Homo sapiens: one gene and its partners. The protein of the gene in region 2 purifies or fractionates together with the protein of the main gene of each other region. This does not show direct contact. Each region holds a gene or a part of one and is shown on either strand. Other genes may lie near its edges. The genes, in order: PES1, BLMH, TKFC, ARG1, SERPINB12, SETD7 and GTF2A1.

Evidence for each region.
Region 1: the proteins of BLMH (region 2) and PES1 fractionate together in Homo sapiens (co-fractionation; one large-scale study listed by BioGRID). This does not show direct contact.
Region 3: the proteins of BLMH (region 2) and TKFC purify together in Homo sapiens (affinity purification with mass spectrometry; one large-scale study listed by BioGRID and IntAct). This does not show direct contact.
Region 4: the proteins of BLMH (region 2) and ARG1 purify together in Homo sapiens (affinity purification with mass spectrometry, with the first as the bait; one large-scale study listed by BioGRID). This does not show direct contact.
Region 5: the proteins of BLMH (region 2) and SERPINB12 purify together in Homo sapiens (affinity purification with mass spectrometry, with the first as the bait; one large-scale study listed by BioGRID). This does not show direct contact.
Region 6: the proteins of BLMH (region 2) and SETD7 purify together in Homo sapiens (affinity purification with mass spectrometry; one large-scale study listed by BioGRID and IntAct). This does not show direct contact.
Region 7: the proteins of BLMH (region 2) and GTF2A1 fractionate together in Homo sapiens (co-fractionation; one large-scale study listed by BioGRID). This does not show direct contact.

Annotation. Positions count from the first base shown.
Region 1 is NC_000022.11:30,579,018-30,581,910, forward strand, and holds part of PES1 (pescadillo homolog), read right to left. Parts: intron 2,628-2,893; coding exon 2,511-2,627; intron 2,392-2,510; coding exon 2,317-2,391; intron 2,085-2,316; coding exon 1,995-2,084; intron 1,685-1,994; coding exon 1,554-1,684; intron 1,162-1,553; coding exon 1,036-1,161; intron 919-1,035; coding exon 734-918; intron 287-733; coding exon 120-286; intron 1-119. UniProt on the Homo sapiens protein: Component of the PeBoW complex, which is required for maturation of 28S and 5.8S ribosomal RNAs and formation of the 60S ribosome.
Region 2 is NC_000017.11:30,281,945-30,285,444, reverse strand, and holds part of BLMH (bleomycin hydrolase), read left to right. Parts: coding exon 1-57; intron 58-3,500. UniProt on the Homo sapiens protein: The normal physiological role of BLM hydrolase is unknown, but it catalyzes the inactivation of the antitumor drug BLM (a glycopeptide) by hydrolyzing the carboxamide bond of its B-aminoalaninamide moiety thus protecting normal and malignant cells from BLM toxicity.
Region 3 is NC_000011.10:61,343,228-61,346,484, reverse strand, and holds part of TKFC (triokinase/FMN cyclase), read right to left. Parts: intron 3,144-3,257; coding exon 3,027-3,143; intron 2,630-3,026; coding exon 2,510-2,629; intron 2,350-2,509; coding exon 2,212-2,349; intron 1,226-2,211; coding exon 1,119-1,225; intron 1,024-1,118; coding exon 920-1,023; intron 774-919; coding exon 740-773; intron 629-739; coding exon 539-628; intron 191-538; coding exon of another isoform or gene 161-190; exon of another isoform or gene 135-160; coding exon 1-134.
Region 4 is NC_000006.12:131,571,975-131,576,025, forward strand, and holds the start of ARG1 (arginase-1), read left to right. Parts: upstream 1-1,251; 5' UTR 1,252-1,308; coding exon 1,309-1,365; intron 1,366-1,991; exon of another isoform or gene 1,992-2,318; coding exon of another isoform or gene 2,319-2,321; intron 2,322-4,051. UniProt on the Homo sapiens protein: Key element of the urea cycle converting L-arginine to urea and L-ornithine, which is further metabolized into metabolites proline and polyamides that drive collagen synthesis and bioenergetic pathways critical for cell proliferation, respectively; the urea cycle takes place primarily in the liver and, to a lesser extent, in the kidneys.
Region 5 is NC_000018.10:63,552,369-63,555,868, reverse strand, and holds part of SERPINB12 (serpin B12), read right to left. Parts: intron 1-3,500. UniProt on the Homo sapiens protein: Inhibits trypsin and plasmin, but not thrombin, coagulation factor Xa, or urokinase-type plasminogen activator. May play a role in cell differentiation.
Region 6 is NC_000004.12:139,549,720-139,553,219, forward strand, and holds part of SETD7 (histone-lysine N-methyltransferase SETD7), read right to left. Parts: intron 1-3,500. UniProt on the Homo sapiens protein: Histone methyltransferase that specifically monomethylates 'Lys-4' of histone H3. H3 'Lys-4' methylation represents a specific tag for epigenetic transcriptional activation.
Region 7 is NC_000014.9:81,179,460-81,182,959, forward strand, and holds part of GTF2A1 (transcription initiation factor IIA subunit 1), read right to left. Parts: intron 872-3,500; coding exon 764-871; 3' UTR 1-763. UniProt on the Homo sapiens protein: TFIIA is a component of the transcription machinery of RNA polymerase II and plays an important role in transcriptional activation. TFIIA in a complex with TBP mediates transcriptional activity.

The DNA of each region.
Region 1 (2,893 bases), on a different chromosome or scaffold from region 2:
GCTTATGGGGGCAGGTTCTCCCGACCTCCACAGTCCTCTGGCTCCTGACCTTCTAGGCCAGAGCAGGCACCAAGCAGGGCTGCTTCCCAGGCCAAGCCCCGCATTGCAGCTCCCCCTACCTTCCCCTCCATCCTCTGCTCTTCCAGGGCTGCCAGCCGGGCCTCTTCCTCCTTTTCTGAACCAGCCTCTGCATCTTCCTCCTCCTCCTCATTTTCTCCCTCTTCATCACCATCACCTTCGTTGTTGTCGTCCTCTTCCTCCTCCTCTTCTGACTCATTCAGGTTTCCTAGAGAAAGCCAATGTCCTCTGAATGCCCTGGGAATCTACTGTCTCTCTGGCAGGGTGACAACAGGCCCAGGCCCCATCCTCTCTGACCCTGCCGTCTTTAGCCATGGGCAGTTCAGGGATGTCCCAATTGTGGCCCTCTCTTGCACCTCCCCACAGCCCAGCTGCCATCAGAGGAAATTCCAAGACCCCCAGTCCTGAGCTCTGTCGCCTCCAATGTAAACTCTGATGACAATGCAGCATGTTCTTCTGCTCAGTCATCCTGAACGTCAAATAACACCTGACCCCAGGAGGTAGATGTCCCTTCTCCTAAGCCTTATTCTACAGGTGACTTCAAAGGGCTTTCTGCTCCTACTGCCTGTTCCCTGGAGCTTTCCACCTTGGCAGCTAAGGGAAACAGCCAGCGTGGGCCCAGGGGTCAAGGCCAGCCCAGTCCCATCCCGCTCACCTGGGTCCTCTCCCCGCTGCAGAGCCAGCAGCTTCAGCTTCTCAGGTGGAACGTAATCTCCTTCCTTCTCGGTCACAAAGGGTGAAAGGTGTGGGGGCAGCTGCACCCCAGAGAAGTACTCTGCCACGGGGAGAAGGAGCCTGGCGTTCACTGAGTCAAACACCCACTGGGGCTGCACGTAGCACCTGGCGCAGAGTGGCAGGCAAAAACGAGTCACAGAGGGCAACTCAGGGTCCTGCTGCATCGCAGGGCCTTTGAGACAGGATACCCAGAAATCCGGACGAGGACCCTTGAGGGCCTACCTGCCAATGACTGAGGTCTGCTGCCCAGGCCGGTCGACAATCTGATGGGTGATGCGGGAGTCTGTGACGTCATAGGTGGCCCCAATGCACAAAGATTTGTCCCAGGACACTTCCCCACCAAAACTCCTACAGGGACAGGGAGAGCCCACACGGGTACACAGACATGAGCTGCCTGTCCTGAGACTCAGCTCCCTGGGACCTGCTGGCCACCCAGCCCATAAACTCACCCTCTTAGGACACAATTACCCCCTCCTCACCCCAGGATCCTTCAATCCTGGCTCAGCAGAGATCTGCCCACTGCCCATCCTTCTGTGCTAAGCTAGTAATAAAATGACGGCAGTTCCGCCCTCTGCTGAGCACTTCCTATGTGCTCAGTGCGGTGCCGAGCACTTTCCACACACTGTTTCATAAGAAGTGGAAACTGACACCATCCCAATGTTACCGATGGGCACCAGGGCAGGACCCAGACCAGAGCATGGCCGAACCAATGCTGTCAGCGGGCCCTTGAGCCTCCCTACCTGATGATGAAGGCCAGGGCCTCACGGGGCACCTCTCGGTTCAGGAAGAACTTCAGGCCCTCAAAAAGCTTCTTGTGCTTCTCCTGCGCCTCCAGCTCCTTCCTGCGGTCTTCCTCCTGCGCTGACATCTCCTGTTGAGAAAGGGGCCAGGCCTCGCACCACCAGGGCTGCCCACCCCCACTGGAGGGCCAGGGCTGGAGATAACGTCCACTCCAGCTTCCTTCTAGATCCTGGATCCTGCCTTCAAAGGAAACTCCAAGGCCCCACTCCTGAGCTCTGTTGCCTCCTATGTAAACTCTGATGACAATTCAGCCCATTCTTCTGCTCAGTTGCTTTGACCATCAAATAACACCTAATTATAGGATGCAAATGTCCCTAAGCTGGGAAACCCCCCACACGACCCCTCCCAGCCCTCCTGCCAGAAGGCAGTGCAGTGCTCACCCCATCGGTGGGAAACTCATCCACCTCGGCCTCCTCCTCTGTGGCAGGCACCACCACGCGGGCCAGGCTGGCACTGAGGGCTGCCAGTTTCTACAGGAGAGAAGGGGGCTGCTTGCAGTGGGGGACCTCATGCGGGCATGTGGCCAGGGTGGGGAGGGGCAGCAGTGACAGTCCTGGGCATCAGCAGGTGTGGGTTCCAAGGGCAGGCTGAGACCACCCACCTAGCCATAACCACCCCCACTCTGAACCAGACCCCCAGAGGTGTTGGGGACAGAGACCACTCCCTTGGGAGATGCCGGATGATGCTCCTGGAGCCTCTCACCTCCATACAACTCTCGGAGTCCAACGCGTAGGTGCCCTCACCGGCCTTTGCCTCTGCTTGGGCCTGACCCTCGAGCTAGTAGGCAAAGGGAAGGTCAGGAGGCAGAGGACAGCCACAGCCCCTCGCCTCTGTGTGGACAGAGAAGGGCTGTGGCCCCTGCACGGCGAGCAGAAGGCACTGGGCTGGGGTCCTACCTTCGGGGGATAGTGGAGGTTGAGCAACTGGTAAAGGCGGAAGTTGACAAAGCCCAGCAGCGTGGTGTAGAACTCGGTGAAGGTGGCCATGACCCTGTAGTCCACGTCTGTCGGGTGCTGGGGAACACAAGAGATGCATGAGCAGTGTGGGTGCAGGGATGGGGGCAAAGGAGGGACAGACAACCCACAGAGTGGAGGGTGTCTGACCTACCCAAAGACCCCAAGCTCCTCAAGAAGGCTCTGCCCTTAAGGCGCTGCCCTAGGGAAGGGGTGGCATGGATCTTCCCACCAGGGGCGTTCCGGCCACAAGTGTTCCCAGCCACAAGTGAGGCTCTGGATAGGGGTCCCAAGGGTTAGACGCATCCTGGAAGTCAGTGCCAGAC
Region 2 (3,500 bases):
CACAGTGGAGCAACCAAAGGAGAAATCTCGGCCACACAGGACGTCATGATGGAGGAGGTAATAACAAAATTTGGATTTTTTTGTGACCCCTCTAAGGAACTCTCAGAATATTCCCATCTGTTAAAGTAATGATTAGGAAGCTTTAGTCATGGCAACGAATGTTTAATTGAATTGAAAATTACTTATTTTACACTGAAAAAACTGAGCTTAAAACTTACTTTGCCTTTTAGTGTAGGACTTGGACTTGGATTTTCTAATTCGTAGTTTAGTGGTCTGTATAATCATTCTTTTATCATTTCATAAATATTAAATACCTTCTATGAGTTTGGCACTGAGGAAACAGATGAGAAAGACATAGTCACTGCTCTTAAAGAGCTCAGTCTCTTGGGAAAAAGAAAACACATCTATAATGATGATAAATCCTATGCTAGATGTGTAAAAACTGATTTGGTGGTCATAGAGGAGGGAGTGACTAGCTCAGTGAGCTGAAGCTTTCATAGGGAAGATAGCTCTTGAAAGAGTAGTCAGAATTTACCAGGTAGATAACAAGACCATTCTAGGCAAAAGGAATTGTATGAACAGTGCCATAAACAAAGATAGAACCTTCAGGGAATCATGTGGCTGAAACATAACTTTTTTCAGTATGATGGGTAGCAAATTAAGCTAGAAAGGCAGAGATGTAAGGGATGTTGGATCGATGCCAGAACATTTGGCTTCTTTCTGTAGAAATAAAGACGGAGCTATTGATGGTTATATTTGTTAATGTATGTAAAAACATTTTAGAAAATGTAAAAAGCACTAAAATATGAGGTGGTAATATTATTTATGATCAAGACAGTTAAGAAACTTTATTATTAATACTATCCATGTCCAGAATGAATATGCATAAAACTGCAATTGGTTTGAGGAAAGAATAAATGTTTCCGTTTGTCAGCCAGTAGGCCCTTTATTAGGCTTCCTTTCAAGACTGTATGGAGTTAAAATGGCCTACTTTTTTTCACTGCGATGGAAAACACTAATGCTTCACTTGTGTTTTCCTTTAAATCTTAGAGATGCAGCATAGTGGAGCAGTGGAGTGTGTAATCTCTGAAGTCAGGCTATCTGAGCTCTAGTCTTCTCATTACTTTATATCCTGGGACAAGTTCCTTAAGCTCTAAAGGCTCAGTTCATATTTAACATGTCTAGCCTAGTGCTTGGCACAATAGCTGTTTCTTAAGTATTTGTTGAGTGGACGAATGCAGAAATTTCATTTACCAAATGCATTTAAATAATCTCATTTTTATCTCTTAAATTCTTACAGAAGAGAGGCATCTTAGTATAGTAGGAAAAAATAGGCTTTGGAGTCAGACATACATGGGTTTAAATTCTGACTCTTTTACTTAACAGTCTGTGATCCTAGGTAAGTTACTTAACCTGTCTGAGATTCAGTCAGGATCTGAAATATTTTCCTTATTGGATTTTTGGGGAATCAAGGATTAAATGTAAGCATGCAAGGCATAGTGCCTGGCACGTAGCAGGAGTTCTGTAAATGTTACTTCTTCCCTTCTTGCTTGGAATGACTGTCTTGCAGAGGCTATATCTGCTACATAATTTGCCTTTATTTAGGGTTAGATTAAGATGGTGGGGGCCAGGCACGGTGGCTCATGCCTGCAGTCTCAGCACTTTGGGAGGCCAAGGTGGGCGGATCATAAGGTCAGGAGATCAAGACCATCCTGACCAACATGGTGAAACCCCGTCTCTACTAAAATACAAATAATTAGCTGGGCGTGGTGGTATGCGCCTGTAGTCCCAGCTACTCGGGAGGCTGAGGCAGGGGAATCACTTGAACCCAGGAGGCAGAGCTTGCAGTGAGCCGAGATTGTGCCACTGTACTCCAGCCTGGTGACAGAGTGAGACTCCGTCTCCAAAAAAAAAAAAAAAAAAAAAGATGGAGGTATAGTAGGAATGAAGGTTCTGCAAACAGTTGTGGAAAAGGGCCCAGATAATACTTGCTGTAGATAATAAGCATCCTTTTGGCTTTTGATGTTTGCTTTAATGATCTTTGAACTAATGATGTGTCTAAGATTGATGTCCTCATCATTGGTAGAGCGTGGTAATTGGCTGGTAAGAATTAGGGCAGATATGTTTCACATATTTTTTTCCTCCCCTACTCCTGCCTCAGAGAAATAGTAGATCCAACTTTACCAAATCCTGAGTATGAATGTTTTATAGGATTATTTACTTAATGATTCTACCTAAACTATTTACTACAGAATTCTGTGTGTAAGGGTTTTTTCCCCCTTAGAGACAGAGTCTTGCTTTGTTGCCCAAGCTGGAGTGCAGAGGCGCAGTCATAGCTTACTGTAACTTTCAACTCCTGGGCTCAAATGCTGCTTCAGCCACCCAAGTAGCTGGGACTACAGGTGCATGCCACCATGCCCAGCTCATTTATTAAAAAAATTGTGTAGAGATTCAGTCTCACTATATTTCCCAGGCCGATCTCCACCACCTGGGCTCAAGCAGTCCTCCCACCTTAGCCTCCCAAAGATTGTGCATATTATAAAGTGTGAGCCGCCATACCTGGCCCTGTGTATAAGGTTTTAAAATTTTTACAATCCCCCAAATGACTTCTTTTCATTGAACCTGACTCTTTGGTAATGAAGAGTCTAGCTGCAGTTTTAAAGCCCCAAATTAGTACCTATGATTTGTGTAACCTTGTAGGCAAGTCAAAATGATGGCTTAATCAACAGCCGTGAAGCTCAGATAGCTTTGAATAAAATGTGTTTATGCTAAAGGCATTCTTACTGAGAAGTGAGACGCAGGCTGCTTGTTGAGATGACAGGCAAGGCAGATCTGTTTTGGAGATGTGTAGTTACCTCTATTGCAATGTTATCTCAGTGTCCATTTTTTTAGCCTGCGGATCCCCTTAAGATTATTAATGTATTCTCAGTTGGGCGCAGTGGCTCATGCCTATAATCCCAGCACTTTGGGAGGTCAAGGCAGATGGATCACTTGAGGCCAGGAGTTCAAGACCAGCCTGGCCAACATGGCAAAACCCCGTCTCTACTAAAATACGAAAAAAACATCTGGGCATAGTGGTGCATGCCTATAATGCCAGCTGCTTGGGCAGCTGAGACACAAGAATCACCGGAACCCTGCAGGTGGTGGAGACCAAAATTGTGCCACTGCAGTCCAGCCTGGGTGACAGAGCAAGGCTCTGTCTCAAAAAAAAAAAAAAAAAAAAAACCTTGTCTGTTAAAAAGCAAAACATAGCCAGGCATGGTGGTAACACTTGTAGTGCCAGCTACTTGGGAGGCTAAGGCAGATCACTTGAGTCCAGAAACCCAGGAGTTCAAGTGCTACCTGGGCAACCTAGTGAGACCTCATTTCTAAAATCAATCGATCAGTCAATCAAAGACCAAAACCAATATTTGTCAGTGCCACAAAAAGGGAAAAGAAGCCTTTATGATTGACTTAGGAAATTCTATAGCAGTGGCTGTCAGCTATTGAAAACAATATAT
Region 3 (3,257 bases), on a different chromosome or scaffold from region 2:
AAGATGGCCCGGAGGATGGCAGCAGCTGCCACCGCCCCGGGGTCTGGCTGCTCCAGCCGTGCTGAGCTGATATAACTGGCTCTTCCGGCTCCAGCTTCCATATTCTTGGTGGCCTCGGCTGCAGCTTCGGCACTCTGGGGGATGGGGTGTGGGAGCAGGTTCAAGGGCAGATCACCAGGCCGCCTCCTTCCTGCCATGGGCAGAACGTCTCTGCCGTGCAGCCTGGCCCTGCACGCCCTTGCCCTGGCTCTGCCAGCACCCTCTGCTCTGTCACCAAATGGAAAGTCACTTCTCATCTACTTCCAGCAGGGAAAAGGGTCACCATTCACTGAGGCCCTGTCACATCCCAGGCAGTGTGCGGGGCTCTACATATTTCCTTAGCCACATAACCACCTTCTGAGATAGGTGCTCATCTCCATTGTACAGAGAAGGAAACTGCGGTCCAGGAAGGTTATTAACTTGCTCAGGGTCACATGGAGACAGGAGTCTGCTGGCTAGAAGCCTGTCTCCCCAGGTGGCTGGGCCCAGCCTCACTCACCTTGACTGCTTTGGTCAGGACTTGTAACAGATCAGCTCCTGGGCTCTTCCAGGCTTGGAGCTCCTGCCCCGCTGCCCACAGAGAATCCAGCTGGACAAGGTGAAGGAAAGGGGGCTGAGCACGGGCCCTGCAACCGAGGGTGCTCTTTAGACTTACAGGGCCAAAAGGAGAAAGGTCTGAGGCCACAGCCTGAGTACATACCATAGTCCTGTCCCCTGGAGCAGCCTTGCCATACCTGGCAGGGAAAGAGAGTGAAAGAGGCTCACTATAGGGAACCAAGGGAATCACTCTGAGGGTTGGGCTAGGGCCTGGCAGGGCGCAGATGTCACCAAACACCTCCCCCAGCCCACCCCTGGTCTGATGCACAGGGCTCTGGCTCACTTCTGCATGGCTTCCAGGCCGGCATCCATGGCAGCAGACCAGGCTGGGAGGCTGGTCTTGGCCTTCAGGGGCTGTGCAGCCGCAGTCAGGAACAGGCCATAGAGCTGGGGAAGATGACAACGCTGAGCATGTGGTGCTGGCCTGGACCCCAGCCAGCCCAGCCACCTCCCTGTCAGCCCTTCAGCCCCCAGGCACCCACCGCCCCAGATGAGCCTCCCATCTTCTCCAGGAGCAGGACAGACAACTTGGAGAGCAGCTGGGCAGGGCTGGCAGGGGGTGGGCCCTCCTTCAGCCACTCCTGGATTGCTGCAGGCAGAGAGAGATGGGGAGGAATTCAGAGATCCTCCCTCCATCTGCCAGACTTCCAGCCAGCACCAATGAAGGCTGGAAAAGGCCGACAGGGAAGTGGAATGAAGGCTTCCCAAGATCCCTTTCCACATCCAGTGTGCAGTCTGGAGAGGGGCTGGGCTGCGTAACCGAAAGGGGCCTGGGGAGGTGAGGCCTGCCCCGAAGCCCTCCACTTGACGCTCTGTACTCTGCTCCCTGGCTTGGTTTTTTTCTCCTTAGCCCTTTGTGCTAACATCCTCTGTGTTTTACTGATTTATCTGGTTGACTGTCTTCCACCTAGAACATAAGCCATGAGGGCAGTGATTTCTGTCTGCTCTGTTCACTACTGTATCCACAGCTGAGAGCAGTGCCTGCCCCACGGCAGGCACCAAATACCTTTTTCTCGAATGAATGATGCTGGACAGTTAAGAGCTTTTCACTGGTCTGGGTAAACTGAGAAAAATAAGGACAACAGAATAAGTTCGCCTTGAGTTGTAAGTTATTCACTGTGAAGGATTTCATTTAATTCTAAGATAACAACCTCATACATTTGTGGTGTTAAGAAGGTCCCTGTCGGCCGGGTGTGGTGGCTCATGCCTGTAATCTCAGCACTTTGGGAGGCCAGGGCGAGCGGATGGCTTGAGGTGGGGAGTTAGAGACCAGCCTGGCCAACATGGCGAGACCCCGTCTCCACTAAAAACACAACAATTAGCCAGGCGTGGTGGCGCATGCCTGTTATCTCAGCTAGTCAGGAGGCTGAGGCAGGAAAATCACTTGAACCCGGGGGGCGGAGACTGCAGTGAGCCGAGATCACACCATTGCATACTCCAGCCTAGCGACAGAGTGAGATTCCTTCTTAAAAAAAAAAAAAAAAAAAAAGGAAGGTCCCTGCCTTCAGGGAAACAAGTGGAAGGGGGGCTAAGGTTTTGTGAATGACCTCACTTGGCAAAGTCCCTGGCACCAACCTCTGGCCGCACGGCTGTGGGTGGTGCCACAGTCGCCGTCACCAGCAGCCCGGTCCAGGGCATTCAGGTGTTCCTCCAGGCCCAGGAGAGTGCTGCACACCCGTTCCAGCACCAGCGCCATCCGCTTCGAGGCTGAGCCTAGAAAGGGAGGATGCTGAAGAACAGGCCCACCAGGCCCTTCTCACAACCACACTTGACTATGGTGGGAGGTGTGGGTGCCAGGGCCCCTACCCGCCCCACCGTATACTCCTGCATCCTTTGGGAAGCCTGTCCCTTCCCCAAAGGCAGGGGTTGGTACCTCCTGCAGCAGTGGAATCAGGGGCCTCCTGGGGCTCGGCAGGGGCTACCCGGCTCCGCTTCCGCCCAGTAATGGAGACTGCAGCCACGTTAGGCCAGGCTGCTGCAGTGGTTTCAGCATCTAAGGGCAGCAAGATAACTCTCTTAGACACGGCTGTCCAGCCAGGGATTCAGCAGGGCTTGGACCCTCCCATCCTGACCCTGGTGGCCTGGCTTTCTCAGCAGCCCTGGAGGAAGGGAGTCCACCTCGACAAGCATGGACTGAGTGCCTACTGTATACAGGGGTATGGAGAGAGGGTCCCTGGGAAAGGGTCAGGCCTCTCTGAGGAGGATCCTAATACCAACTCCTTCTAGTCCAGTGAGAGCTGGAGAAGGCTGGAGAAGCCCAGGAAGAGCCTTCTTCACAGGCTCCAGAGCCCTGATTGTCACGGTCAGCCCTGACGGGGTCTCCAAGTCTCCCTGGCTCCTTCCAGTTACAAGGAGCCCTGGCTTGGGTGACCCCAGGTTCCAAGTCTCACCTATCAGTTTCAGGAGAGGCTCATCCACCAGCAGGAGGGTGAGAGAAATGCCAGGCATCTCCAGTGCTGACATGAAGGTGCCCACCAGGGCACGGGCAATCTTCACCCCGCGGCCCTCTGCAATACCAGAGTGTGGCAGTCCAAAAGGGAAAAATGGGCATCAGGGAAAGAAAACAACAGAAAAGCAAGGACCTTGGAAGCTGGGGCTCTGAGGTCGGGAGGGAGATGTCC
Region 4 (4,051 bases), on a different chromosome or scaffold from region 2:
AAAAGGTAGGAAACCTATTTGGAAAACAGTCCTATCAAAATGGACCCATGAGACTTTGGTTTCCTCATTTATCCATTCAATAAATATTTATTGAGTGCCTATTATACACCAACACTCTTCTAGGCCCTGGGGATACAGCAGACAAAATTCTCTGACCTCATGGAATTTAAATTCCAAAATGTTCTTTCCCACCAATAGGAAAAAGAAATTAGTTTCTACTAAGTGAATTTTCCCTTTAAATTACAATTACATAATTTTAAAGTCGGAAGGATCTTTAAGGTGCCTTTATTTTAAATTCATACTTTTGTATGGTGACAAATGGTAGCTCAGGGGCATAGAGGTTGACACCTTCCCAGCATTTAGACTATAAGCTCGACGGTTAAGTGGATTCAGAATGGCAGAGACTAAATCCCGACTTTTCTTCTACAGCCTATGTTGGCAACGGGTCTGAGCTTCAGTTTATTCATCAGTATAATGGCACCAATGATGAGACTTCACATAAAATTGGTATAAATATAAATATGGTATTTTGAAACAGAACTGCATCGGACACATGGTAAAAACTCAATGTTAGCTATTTTTATTTCTATACTTTGATTATGATATGATTCTACAATTATTTTCCTGTACACCATACTTCAAAAATGGTAACCTCTCTGGGTTACCAATCAAGTAACTAATTTTTTAAAGTAATCATCAAAAAAGGAAGTTATATACTCTTTATTATATTATACCCTAAAAGTTTATGAAATGTGTCTCATGGATTAACCATTTACCCTCATGTGTGAAATCTCAACTCAGGATTTTAGGGCTGGAAGGGATGTGACAGACGATCTTGCCAAGCCCGGCCCTTCTTCTACAAGGACGTCTTCAGAGATCTGGAGGAGGAAAGGGCCTTGCCCTGAGTTCGCTGAGCCAGAACAATAGGACTTCTTCTGTAGTTGTGAAACTTGTCAGTTGTTGAAGTCAGGTTAATGTCATCTGGCTGGCTTTTTAAAAGGGTGTGAAGTGAGAACATGAATAATTGTCACTTGATTAGAGACCTAGACTCAGAGTTAGGTTACTCCATGTATGAAGTAACCCCATATAGTTACTTCATACATGGAGTAACCATATAGTTACTCCATGTATGAAAAATTGCAAGACTGTTGACTGTCATTCTTTGGTTTAGTGGGTGGAGCCAGCTGTCCTCATTAGATAAAGGTTGTTTATTCAACCCAAGTATAAATGGAAAAAAAAGATGCGCCCTCTGTCACTGAGGGTTGACTGACTGGAGAGCTCAAGTGCAGCAAAGAGAAGTGTCAGAGCATGAGCGCCAAGTCCAGAACCATAGGGATTATTGGAGCTCCTTTCTCAAAGGGACAGGTAAGGAAAAAAGTCTTTCTTTGAATTCCTGGAATTTAGTTGAAAATTTTGGACTTCAAAATTTGTAAGGTGTTATTGTCTAGTTAGTTCAGTTTTCTGATACAATCTGGCCAGGAAATGCATATTTTAAAGTCCTCTCACCATTTTCCAACATTGTATAATTATAGTCACATATCCACTTACTTTTGTGGCTCGTGATCTCAGCCAAGGCTAAATTCATTTGAACCTACAGAATGTTTTCTCATATTTTTTAGGAGAAAATATTTTTCTTTGAATTGAAATGGACTCTTTCTGCATTGTAGCTACTCATTGAGGTTTAGTTGCTCTTGTTGTTTTTGATGTTACTGTGTGTATGTAGAGGAAGAGAGAATTTTAAGAAATACATTTGTTTAGTTATGTAATTAATGCCTAGAAAAATTTAATAGTTTGGTGGTAACCTTCAGGCTTCTTATAATTTGGATAACCTAAATATTATTGTTTCATGCAACTTTGTGAATAATTCATGTTATGTTAGGGTTTTAATGTTTCTATGAAACTGTTCATTCATGGACTAGGTAGAATCCTTTATGTGCCTCACTTGGAAGGGGAAAAAAAGAACAAAAAAAGAAAGAAAATCCTACTGCGGGTTGGCAACTCTAAAAGGATTTTAATGGATTTATGAAACCCCCAGATTTCCTTACAGCCACGAGCTGTGAATCCACACATGCCAGCAACATTGAATACACTTTTTTTTCTGCCTGGGCACACTTATTCTAGTAAAGAGAGTGTGATGACAGAACACCTTAGACTTCAACACGCATCTGTGCTTAAAGAGGATAAAAAACAAAGAACAAAATCAAACAAGACAATGTATGAGTTGAAACTACTAAGGTTGATTTTCTCCAGGTTTCTCAGGATCTGGGCAGCGTTTTGCTTCCTCTTAATTTGGAACCCTTGCTGTGTACTCTGACTTTTTACTGCAAAACAAATTGAGAGAGGCCAGAGGTTAGAGGCCCAAACTGCATTTGGACTGTCAGTAAATACTACTTTGCTTCCCCTGGAAATCCTCCAAAAGTCTCTCCCAAACACAGGGACATTTTGCTGACACAGAAATGTTCCTTTTAAAATCCACACTGTTCTCACCCACTCTTGAACAGGTTATAATAAATATATAATTTAAAAACCTCACAAAAGGGAAGCAAGTGTCCTCCTTCTACCACCCTCCTCCCATTAAAACATGGTCATGAGAATGGAGTTCATTGTCTCATGATTGTAAGGACTAAGAGAGAGAGATTTTTTACACTAAGTCATAGAGTAGAGAGGATAAAATGGCCAACATATAAGTATTTGTCCTCACCTAAAGGAGGTACAAGTTTGACAAATAAGCAAAAGGAAAGGATTAGAGGGCAGATGACTAAAATGTTGAGTCTGAGAAAGGGCTTCATCCCTGTCTCACCTCCTTGAAAGGCTTGCAAGGCAGCGAACAAACAATAAGGTAGGTATTATTTTTACCTTACAGTTGGGTTAAAAAAAAGCCCAGAGAGGTTTGGTAATGTGCTCAACGTCACACAGCCTTGACTGCATAATTCCAGACAAGATAATCTGATTCCAATGCCTATGCCCTTGATTTGCACTGATGTCTCTTCAGACTATTCAACTCCAAAGGCGACCTTATACTTGTGGCCATTTAGGGATTGGGCCCAGCTTAGAAAGTCGGTGGAGCTGACAAAGCAATTTCCAAAGTGGGCAGATAGAGCAAGCAAGAGGAAAGCCCAATCATGAGAAGCCATTTGAATAAAACAAATAAAAAAGAATTCTAGAAAATTTAATGGCTGTGTTATAGCAAATATAGTGTCAACTAAGGGGTCTATGAGCTTTGTTCTAAAATATGAAAGGGAGAAGGGTAAAAAAGCCAAGGAGTTTTATCAAACTGAGTATTGAGTATCTACTATATGTCAGCTCTACACTACAAAATATAGTGCCCCACATGTAAAGCAAGCTGGACTGAAATCTAACAATGAGGAAAAGACAAAAACAGACACAAAACTAAAGGCAAAACATGAACCAAGCAGCACCCTATTGGGGTTGAAAGAAGGAGAAATCATGTTTACTTGATTGGGGAGAGGCAGGTGTGTCAAGCAAAAAGGGAGTAAAGAAGCAAAATGTGTCAGGCAGAGGATAGGGCGGGTCCCTTGCTGCCAGGGACAGGAATTTAACATCAAGGATTTGCCTGGCACCCAGGGCAAGTCTTCTGTTCCTTTGAATGGGGAAAAAATACTTGCTTACTTTGATGCCACAGCCCCAATCCTAAAGATAGACACACGTGTCTTTTAACACATTGTCTCATCTGACAACATGTAATAATCTTCTGCATCTAAAAGCTCTGTTGGAAATTAAAATCAGAAAGATACAGAAAGGAACTGTGCCTTTAGACCTCTAATTGTTCAGGGGACTGAGGAAGACTTGCCCCTTGGAGGAAGAGTGTTAGTTTCCCTAATGTCAAAACGGCAAGGGTAGAACTTCCCATCATACTGTTAAGCAGGCCAAAACTTGAAATTACTGGGTTGGTCTTTGTTTGTAGTTTTCAGCTCCCAGATGATGACTTTTTCTGTTGCCTGCTTTCTCCCCAAGAGCTCTAGCTTACTTATGTGAGTACATGCACGTAGGTCTCTTTCATGTCACACTCTTTCGATGCTTTTGCCCAATC
Region 5 (3,500 bases), on a different chromosome or scaffold from region 2:
ATTCTCCCATGGTTCTGGGGGACAAACGTCCAAAATCAAGATATCAGCAGATTTGGTTCATTTCAAGACTCTCAAGGAAAATCTGTTTCATGCCTCTCTCTCAGCTTGTGGTGGTTGCCAGCAAACTTTGACATTCCTTGACTTGTAGACAAATCACTCAAGTCTCTGCCTCCATCTTCACATCCTTCTCTTTATTGTCCATGTATGTATCCAAATTTCCCTCTTCTTTTAAAGACAGCAGTCACTGAATTAGAGCCCATCCTAAGCCAGTACAACCTCATCTTAATTTGACCACATCTGCAAAGACCCTATTTCCAAACAAGGTCATATTCACAGGTAGAAGGATTAGGACTTAAACTATATTTTTAGGGGACATAATCCTACCCACTTTGTGGTGGAACTCCCTGTATTCACGTAAAATGAAGCCAAAGGCTAACATTCTTATTATCAAGTTAGCAGCCAAGCAAACATCATCCCATCTCATTCTTCTCCACAGATTGTGGCTGGTTCTGCTTACACCTTTTGCCTGTACTCTCCCCTCATTGCTCTGTGACTGAGGATATGCCCAGCAAATTCCCATGGGTCATGTGCCTTGTTAACATTCTCACCCCCTTTTGACTCATCCCACATGCAAACTACAGAATTTGAGGCACTTTAGTCAGTCATTCATATTGTTCAAGAGACAATAAATCTTGAATGATGCTGGGGGTCTTGATGTCACCAGGTGTACTAGTCCATTTTCACACTGCTACAAAGAATACCAGAGACTGTGTCATTTATAAAGGAAAGAGTTTTAATTGACTCACAGTTCCGCATGGCTGGGGAAGCCTCAGGAAACTTACAATCATGGCGGAAGGAGAAGGAGAAACAAGTACCTTCTTCATTAGGCGGCAGGAGAGAGAGAGAGAAAAGGAGGAACTGCCAAACACTTATAAAACCATCAGATCTCATGAGAATTCACTCACTATCACAAGAACAGCATGGGGGAAACTTCCTCCATGATCCAATCACCTCCCACCAGGTCTCTCCCTCAACACGTGGAGATTATGGGGATCACAATGTGTGATGAGATTTGAGTAGGGACACAGAGCCAAACCATATCACCAGGTTCAATGTCCTCTTTGACAGTGTAGAACTACAGATAATATAGAACCAGAGTGAGATAGTGACTTCCTAAGAACAGGTATCTTGCCTTCCCCACCCAATCTATTCCAGAGTATCAAGAGAATATGTAGATCTCACCACTGACCTATGCCTTTCAAATGAAATGCCTTTTCTTTTGTCTCTTTGCCTATAGATATTGTGTATTTCCAAGATAGAAATGTAAATCCTCTTATTTGTGCTTTTATCATCAGATACAGCACACCATAAGCATGAAGAAATATTGCTGCATTGAATGGAATGGTGTAATTTGTTTTAACACTTTCCCAGTTAATATAGATTTTCTTAGCCTATAAAACCTAATTCAAAAAGATAACATTATGTAACTTTTTAAAAAATGTGTCTAACATGTGCCAAATATCTTACATGTGTTAGCTTTAATCCTACAACTCTGCAAGGTAGATATGATCATTCCTTCTTTTTCAGAAAAGAAAACTGCATAATCAAATAGCACATATATTTGGCCCCAAACTAAGTAATCTTTCTACTGTATCTATCGTTTCTAAGTTGCCCCTCAACTGATGATAGGTGATCAAACACATGCCTGCTGTATGTGGGTACTCTCCCCCCTTATTCAGCTTATAGTCCATTTTATTGCTACATTTTCTTTCTGCCAAGTTTGTACCTAACTCACAGTTCTTATCTTGCATCTGGGAACTGGGTTTGAGACGTACTTTGTATTTTCAAACTAATTTCAGGGTAATCATAGATCACCAGAGTGTTTTCAGGAGCATTATGCCTTAATTGGTGGGTGTTTTTTGAGTAATGGATGTCCTGGATGTATCTGGAAATTCAATAATGCCTCACAACTCAGAAAGCTACCTTTGCATATGTTGGTAAACATCTTGATGTCCAACAGATTTTCTCTACACATAGCTCACATTACCCATCTAGTAACAAGTCTACTAACAAAGAAAAGAAAACCAACAAATTAAAGATGGTCTGAGTTGGGGGGATTTCACAGGCTTTCGATTAATGATAAAATTTTGTGTGAAATGTAGTCTAATATTTTTTAAAACCTTTGTTGTATAACTTAGGTTAATGTTTGATCAAAATCTTCAGCTCGAAGGAGGAGAAGGTAAAGGGAATCCTGGCAATTTGGCCATCACTATTAAAAGAAGACAAGAGCCTGACTATATTGAAGGAAAAGAAGGGGTTGGTTAGAAAGACTGAATGATCCCAACCTGGCTCTTCAAATGTTCCAGTTAATCACTTGGCTTCACCCCTTCTGCCTTCTAGCATGAGCACTCCCAGAACTGAATGATCAGAGTCTTGCCTGCTTTAGAAAGGACATGACTACTCATGCAGGCCAACTCCCTACTTCTCAAGATAAAAAAAACTGAGGCCAAATGAGGCGAAGTGACTTGCAACAATCATGCAGCTGTCCAGAAGCAAAGCAAGGCTAAGACTTCCTCATGCCTAGGGCTGCTTCCTCCTAGATCACACAGTTTTTCACATTCCATTCCATTCTAATTCTGGCACTACACTTACTCACTCTGTGGGCTACAGAACACTCCAAAACTCTCTCTGCCTGTTTCTGCATCAAGCTTCTATAAACTTTGTGAACTACTTTCCAGGAGTACTGTGATGCTCTCACCCCAGTAACAATTCCCTTTTCTGAGTGTTACCTGGTTCTAAGCTTTCATTACAGTTGTGTGCAGCTTTAATGCTGCCTCACCTCCCAAGGGAGTTGAGAGAACAATAGTAACAGAAAACAACGAAAAAAAAACAGCTGGACAGTTGCTGTTAAAGTTTTATGACTATATGTAAGCCCTTACAATAGGAAGATCTTTCCTGGCTTTACATACAAGTCTAAAACATAGCAAATAATGAACATTTAATGACTAGATTAAAATGTCATCTGCTAACCACCTTCTGAAGGGTTGCTTGGTTATTTTGGGGGGTGGGGGTGAGTCAGTTTTTTTAAATTAGAAACTGCCTAAATCTGACACCAACCTAATTATGAAGTTCTCCCACTGGGTTAGTCACTATATATAAAAGATGAACTGAACAAGACACAATCTCTGCCTTTGAGAAATCTATGACCTAACAGAGCAGATAATGCATTCGCAGATTCAGGAGTAGAGTTTAAGACGCATAGAAGAGTAAGATATTAATTTACAAAATGAAATAGAAAAGGGAAAAGAGTATTTTGTAGGAAGCACTCATTAAGATTTGATTATGCTAATAACACAGATTCAAATAGGCAATTTTAAAATATAACACTTTAAAAATACTTTAAAGCTTTTTAACATTGCTTTTATTTATTAAAAATAAGCTTAGACTGTTAGTAAAAATCATGTTATGTTATGTTGTTGCAATTAAAAAGAAAAGAGAAA
Region 6 (3,500 bases), on a different chromosome or scaffold from region 2:
TCAGCCTCCAATGTAGCTGGGACTATAGGTAGACATCACCACAACTGGCTAATTTAAAAAAAAAAATTTTTTTTTGAGACAGAGTTTTACTCTTTTTGTCCAGACTGGAGTGCAATGGTGCGATCTTGGCTCACTGCAACCTCCGCCTCCCGGGTGCAAGCAATTGTCCTGCCTCAGCCTCCCTAGTAGCTGGGATTACAGGCACCTGCCACCAAGCCCAGCTTATTTTTTTGTATTTTTAGTAGAGATGAGGTTTCACTATATTGGCCAGGCTGGTCTCGAACTTCTGACCTCAGGCAATCTACCCACCTCAGCCTCCAAAACGGCTAATTAAAAATTTTTTTTTATAGAGATAGGGTCTCACTGTGTTGCCCAGGCTGGTCTCAAACTCCTGAGCTCAAGTGGTCCACCCACTTTGGGTGCTGGGATTACAGGCAAGAACCACCACACCTGGCCTCAGTGCCTTTCAACAGGCAAATGAAGAGGAGCCCTATCATCATCTTAATCTCTTGGGAGAGACAAGGTCAGGGGAGAGCTACCAAATGATGGCCATTACTCTGGTGACCTTGCACATTAAGGAGGTGCTTGGACATGTGACCACTCCCTATCATTCTGAAGGCTTTTAGATTGCTGGTTGTGAGAGAATTCTGAAATCTATTCGACGACAGCAGGAGCCTCTTCCTGGCTTGTTTTGTTTTCTTTACATCCCTAGGGTGTGATCAATTAAAGGAACTAGAGATTAAGGGTTGTGATCATTCGAGACTTCCACTCTGAATATTTAATATCCCGGATTAGTTTTCCTAGCAGTAGAACTTTATGTCTAAAACAGCAGCCACAACCAAAACAATAACAGAGACTTTCCATGAGAAAGAGAAGAGACTAGGTTGCAGTGCTCTTACATCTTCTTTCAACATTAGTGCTAGAACAGAATCTGACATAACTTTTTCAAATGCCAATAAGATCATTAATATTTGGACAATAAGATCATGTAATATTTTGTCATGTCAGTAAGTCAATTTAATGCACAGGGGTACTGATAAACAGAGGAGAAAAAAAGTGTATGAATCTACTATGATCGGCATTGGGTTATATGCTTTCCTGTTATCAAATGTAAGCCTCAAAACAGTCTCCCATATTCTCATCTTACAGATGAAGACACCAATGCTTTATGAGACTTGCCCAAGAGACATTGCCACACTGAGTGTGCTGATGAATACTGAAAGCCCCTTCTCCAAATCCTTTAATTCCCATTCTAGACACTGGCAAACTAGTTGAACACACTCTTCCTTGGTGATGGTAAGAAGGTACCTCTAAAAAGGTAGGAACCCCCAGGTCCCTGGCAGGGAAGTGGAAGAAGGCTTTGTGGTTAAGATCATTCACACAGAACCACCAGGTTTCCAACAGCATGTCCCGGTTGCAAAGTCCTATCTCTTCCAAGTGTTATCTAACTTGAAGGGAAACACTAGTCCTCCTTGCTCTGCATGAGGTCAATTTGTAAAATGCGCCAAGTCAGCCAACAGCCTTCCAGGCGAGTTCCCACTGAACAGAGGGTGAATACCAGGCCCAAGCAACAGGGAAAATTAACTTGAATGACTGCTCTGTGTTTTTAAGGTTGCCGGAGCTAATGTTCTGTGTATCTGTCTGTAGCATGATTTTAAATATTTACAGAAGTTAGAGAAAGGAAAAAAGTATCAGTTCACAAGTCTACTTTTTCACTTTATTCTATGGTCATTATCTATTGAACAGATAGAAAGTTACAATTTTCCCCTCTAGTTACTTCTGAGGGAGCTTCTTCCTGAATCTGATAAGAGCCAGGCCTATATTCTAAGCAGCAATGTACATCTCAATCTCAGCAAAGTAAATTCCCTCTGGATCAGACACCCAGCTGCTTAATGTCTCAGGCTTACTCACAAGAGATCTGAGAGTGGCGTGTGAGTATTTCCCTTAGAACCAGAGACCCTACGCACACACTGTTGGTTTTGTACACTAGAACATTGCTTTAAAAAACAACAATTAATAGGCCGGGCGCGGTGGCTCATGCCTGTAATCCCAGCACTTTGGGAAGCCAAGGTGGATCTCTTGAGCCCAGGAGACCAGTCTGGGCAATACAGTGAGACCCCATCTCATTAAATAAATAAATAAATTGAAAAACAAAAAACAACAATAATAAAAGGCAAGCTTATTCTGTTTAATGCAAAGAACATGCCCTCCTGGTGATGCATTCAATCACCAACTCTTAAAAACATAACTTGATGTTTTGATCTTTTTAAAATTTTTTAATTTTTTAGGTTTTTAAAAAATTATTTCAACTTTTATTTTAGATCCGGGGGTACATATGAAAGTTTGTTACCTGGATAATTTTTTTTAAGGGTAATTGTTGGCAAGGGTTCATCTATTAATTGTGAGGGTCATGATTTTAATGTGTGGCCCACACAGAAAGGGTGCTACAAATACACTTCATATGCATTTTCCCTAGATACAGGGCATGAGCACTCTTAGCAGAGACAAGTAGAATCTGATATTAGGGGGAGTGTTAATAAAAAATATTCTTAATATTTTGAAGGGGTTGTGGCAGTGGAACACTGAGCTGCTTATTTTCATTCTGGCCCCTTGTTCTGATATTTCCCCTTTTTGATCATTCTTCCTCCATGTCTCCTACACATTTCCAGGCCCTTCTGTTTTTCCTGCCATCATAACTGTGCATCTGGACCACTGCAAAGAGACTTCAAGGTACCTCATCTGCTGTGTCAGCCCCTCTGACTGTCCTGCTGGCCACTGCCTGTTCCTCTTCCCGGAGTGGAGCCTTGATCCTGTCATTCCCTTTTCTAAAGAGCCCCCACGGCTTCCATGGCTTCCAGCACACAGTCCATGCTCTCAGCCTGCTACCCAGCCTCCTTTCCCTGTCTTCCCCTCCACTTTTCTCCTTGTAAGCTCCATGTTGCAGCAAAATCAAATGACTGTTCTCTGGGTGCACCCGCAGAATTCCATGCCTCCGTGTCTTCACTCACAAAGTTCCCCTCTCAACCTGACTCAGCTCTATGGCACCTCTTCTGGAAAATCTTTCCCCTTTGACTTCCCTAAGCTGGAACTAATTTTTACTTCCTCTCAACCATCACAATTCATCTGTATAGATATATTTATTTGAAATCATATTAGAGACCACATCATATTCATCTTTGTATCTATGGGTAGACAAAGAAATAGATGCTGTGATAAATTTCTGTTTCCAGATGCCCAGGGGAATAACACTGGAAAACTAAACATCACTCTTCACTGAACCAGTGTGTCTCAAAGTGTTTTCCAAAAGCCACACCAGAGCTCAGGTGGAGCTCTGAGGTCCTCTGAGGCCCAGGGCTTGCTGCCTTCTTCCCACAAGAGCACAGCCAACACAGTACACAGAACACTCTCTCGACACAGCCTCCGCCACTCCCCTCACCTCAGGGAATTGTCCACTCTGAGTTCAGAACTTTCCCAGAGTTACAATCATACCCTGACAGAGA
Region 7 (3,500 bases), on a different chromosome or scaffold from region 2:
AACAAATTAAGTTTTTCTGTAAGGAAATTAAAGTTGTGGTTTCAATTCCACTGAACTCAGACAAGACCCAAGTCTTTAATTACATTTAATAAGTATGAAAACCTAATTAAAATAAATATTCATTCCTGGGTCAAATTTTATCTCCAAACTATGATCACTGATAACTTTAAATCTTAAATAGATGTTTCATAAAGCTGGAAAGGAAGAGGTATATATCACTGAGGGAGAATAGCAAGTAAAAATATTTAAGACCTATTATGAGAGTTTTAAATTGTTTTCTTATACAAGTGAATTAAAATTCAACACAATTCTTACCCTTTTGTAAAAAGCTCACACGCAACTTTTACCAAATATAACCACATACAATAAGCAGTTTCAGTTCAATCTATCAAAAGGGAAGTTTCTTCAGTTCATTCCAACAAGTATCTTCTGATTGAACCCAAGTTGGAGGAAGGAATATAGACAAAGCTTTACATGCTAATTACCGGTGGCAGGTACCTGTATTTAAAATCAACAATTATGGTTTTCCTACACAAAACCCCAACCCTCCCACCCAAAAACCCTAGGTGCTACAGTTCCATGGCTTGCCAGTAAGTAGTGTCTATGTTGTCAAGGTCTATCTTTGTTCCAGTAGCTTTGCTTCTACTGCACTTTTCTGACATGCAGAAACGAAGTTTTGGTTGGCATATGCCCCAAGTTTCAAACTGTCCGCTTTACATTTTTTTTAAGTTTCTTTTATTTATAAAAGAAAAAAAGCAACTCTTCACCATTCTGCATCTCCAATGGCTTTGGAAAATATATAATCTCTTCCATTAAGATTCATAATGCCATCCTTGAGATGAAATTTCCATTTGTTTTTACTTCTGTGTATCTAAACAAAAACAACATTTTAAAAATTGAGAGATACAATCAGAAAACAGAGAAAACAAGTAACAAAAAACCCATACACACACACACGTACACACACACCCCCCCACAAAACAGTATTTACAGTATTGTATTTGCAAATTGGTTTGTTTTTGTAGAAGAAGGGTCTCCTATGTTGTGCAGGCTGGGCTCGAGCTCCTGGCCTCACGTGATCCTTCTATCTCAGCCTCCCAAAGTGTTGGGATTACAAGCGTGAGTCACAGCACCTGGCCTAAAAATTGGTTTCTTAATAAAGTTTAATTTCACCAAAAAGAACAACAACAACAAAAAAACCACACACAAAACTCACTAGGTGGGTCTAAAAACAAATTTATCTGTAATTAGTACTATTTTATAGCTTTTAGTACTTGTGTTCATTAAAGTAGTTAAAAAATATTTCTTTACAAAATGTCTTATCTCTCTACCAGGTTTGCATATATATTTTCAAGGTCTACCTCAAAAAGACTATCCTCCACAAAGCTTTCCCAAATCTTACCAGCTAAAACTATTCTTTTCCACTGTTAAATTCCCAATGGTATTTTCATTGACATTTCTTACATTATTTGTAAGTAATACAATTATGGACTCATTTCTTCTACCAAAATAAAACTCCTTATAGAGTTCTCAAGACCTAACTACCATGGAACCTTATACATAGCAGTATTTTAAAAATACATCTAAAGGATGCTAATCATCCAGTCACTTACACCAGATTTCAAAAACTATGTACATCCACAGTTAAACAAAAAGAGCTGAAGGGCAGGCTCTGGGCACTCCCATCTTTGCCTTCACTTATAGTCCGTAGTTGTTTGTAATTCCATGGATTTGGTGGGGGAGAGGAGTTGTAAAACTTAATGAACTGAAGTGACCTTTCTTCCTTTTCCCAGTAAGTCACACTAATTATTTAATGTTCAAGTTCCACATCTTCTGCAAAGAAGGCCCCCTGGTTCTCCCTATTCTATGATCTAAAGGTACCTAAAAAAAAAAAAAAATCAACTAGTTCAGGCTTTCATTTTCAGAAGAAGAAATGACAGATTGGATAGGGTTCAATGGTTTGACCAAGTGTATACTGCTACTAAGTGACAATCATGATTTTCAAGTCTTGGTCCAGTACGCTTTTACTAAATCAGTCTGTTTCATATAATAATGCAGAAATGCTCAACAGGTATAGATATTTTCTTTTTCTTTTTTTTCTTTGAGACAGAGTCTCACTCTGTTATCCAGGCTGGAGTGCAATGGCACGATCTTGGCTCACTGCAACCTCCCCCTCCCAGGTTCAAGTGATTCTCCTGCCTCAGCCTCCTGAGTAGCTGGGATTACAGGCACTCACCATCACGCCCAGCTAATTTTTGTATTTTTGTAGAGATGGGTTTCACCAGGCTGGCCAGGCTGGTCTTGAACTCTTGACCTCAGGTGATCCCCCACCTCGGCCTCCCAAAGTGCTGGGATTACAGGCGTGAGCCACTGCACCCGGCCAGGTACAGATATTTTCTGAGATCTCATTCCTAAAATTCCATGGCCTAACCTCCCAGTGCAAACATTCTTCATGACATATTCCTGGCAAATGGTTGTGCAGTGTCTGCTTAAATACGATTAGAAACAGTGAGCAAAGAATTTCAAATTAAGTTATTCCTTTTTGGAACAGCTCTCTTGTAAAATCTTTCAGAGTTTACCCTTACGGAAATCTGCTTCTCCAACTTCCATTTATTGATCCTAGCTCTGCTTTTTGAGACTTAAAAAAAAAAAATCACTCAATCAAACAACCTTCATCTTATTTGGAAACTACTCTCATGTTCTTCTTCTGGATTCAAACTTTGCTTACTTATTAAAGCAAAACAAAGCACAATAAAGGTAAAACAGCAGGTAGGGTAAAGACTGTTGGATTAAGAACTAATTATATCTCTGGTCTAAATACACTACATAAATGCTAAATGTAGCATCTTAAGATTGATGACTTGAATGTCTAACGGACATACCAGACTTGGCATGTCCAACCAGCTCCACATGCAGCTTTTCCTCATCTGAACTGATGGTATCACCATCCTTCTTTCAGAATCCTCATCAAAAAATCTCAAGAGTCATTCTTGATTCCTTTTTCTTTTCTACCACAAATCTCAGAGTCAGGAAATGCTGTTAACATTCTTCCTTCAAAACAAATCCAAAATCCAACTACTTCTCACCAACTTTAATACCATCACCATAGGCCGAGTCATCATTATCTCCCATGTGAATTATTATAATATCCCCCTAAATAGTCTCGTTTCAGCAACCTCTGCTTCCTCCTCATATTATGCTCTCTACAAAGAAAGCAAAGTAATCCTTTCAAAATTTAAATCAGTTCATACCATTTGTCTCACTGAAACCTTCCAATAACTTTCTGATTCACTTAAGAGTAAGAGCCATGTCCTTACAAAATCCTTACTATCTGCCTTCCCTTACCTCTCTACCTACTACTGTACTCTCCTCTTCCCTCACTCCAGTCTAGCCACACAGGCCTCCTTGCTGTTCCTCACATACAACAGACTCTGCCACCAGATGACAGGGCTAACTCTTTCCAAGTCTTTGCTAAAATGTCATTTTCTCCAAAGACCTAC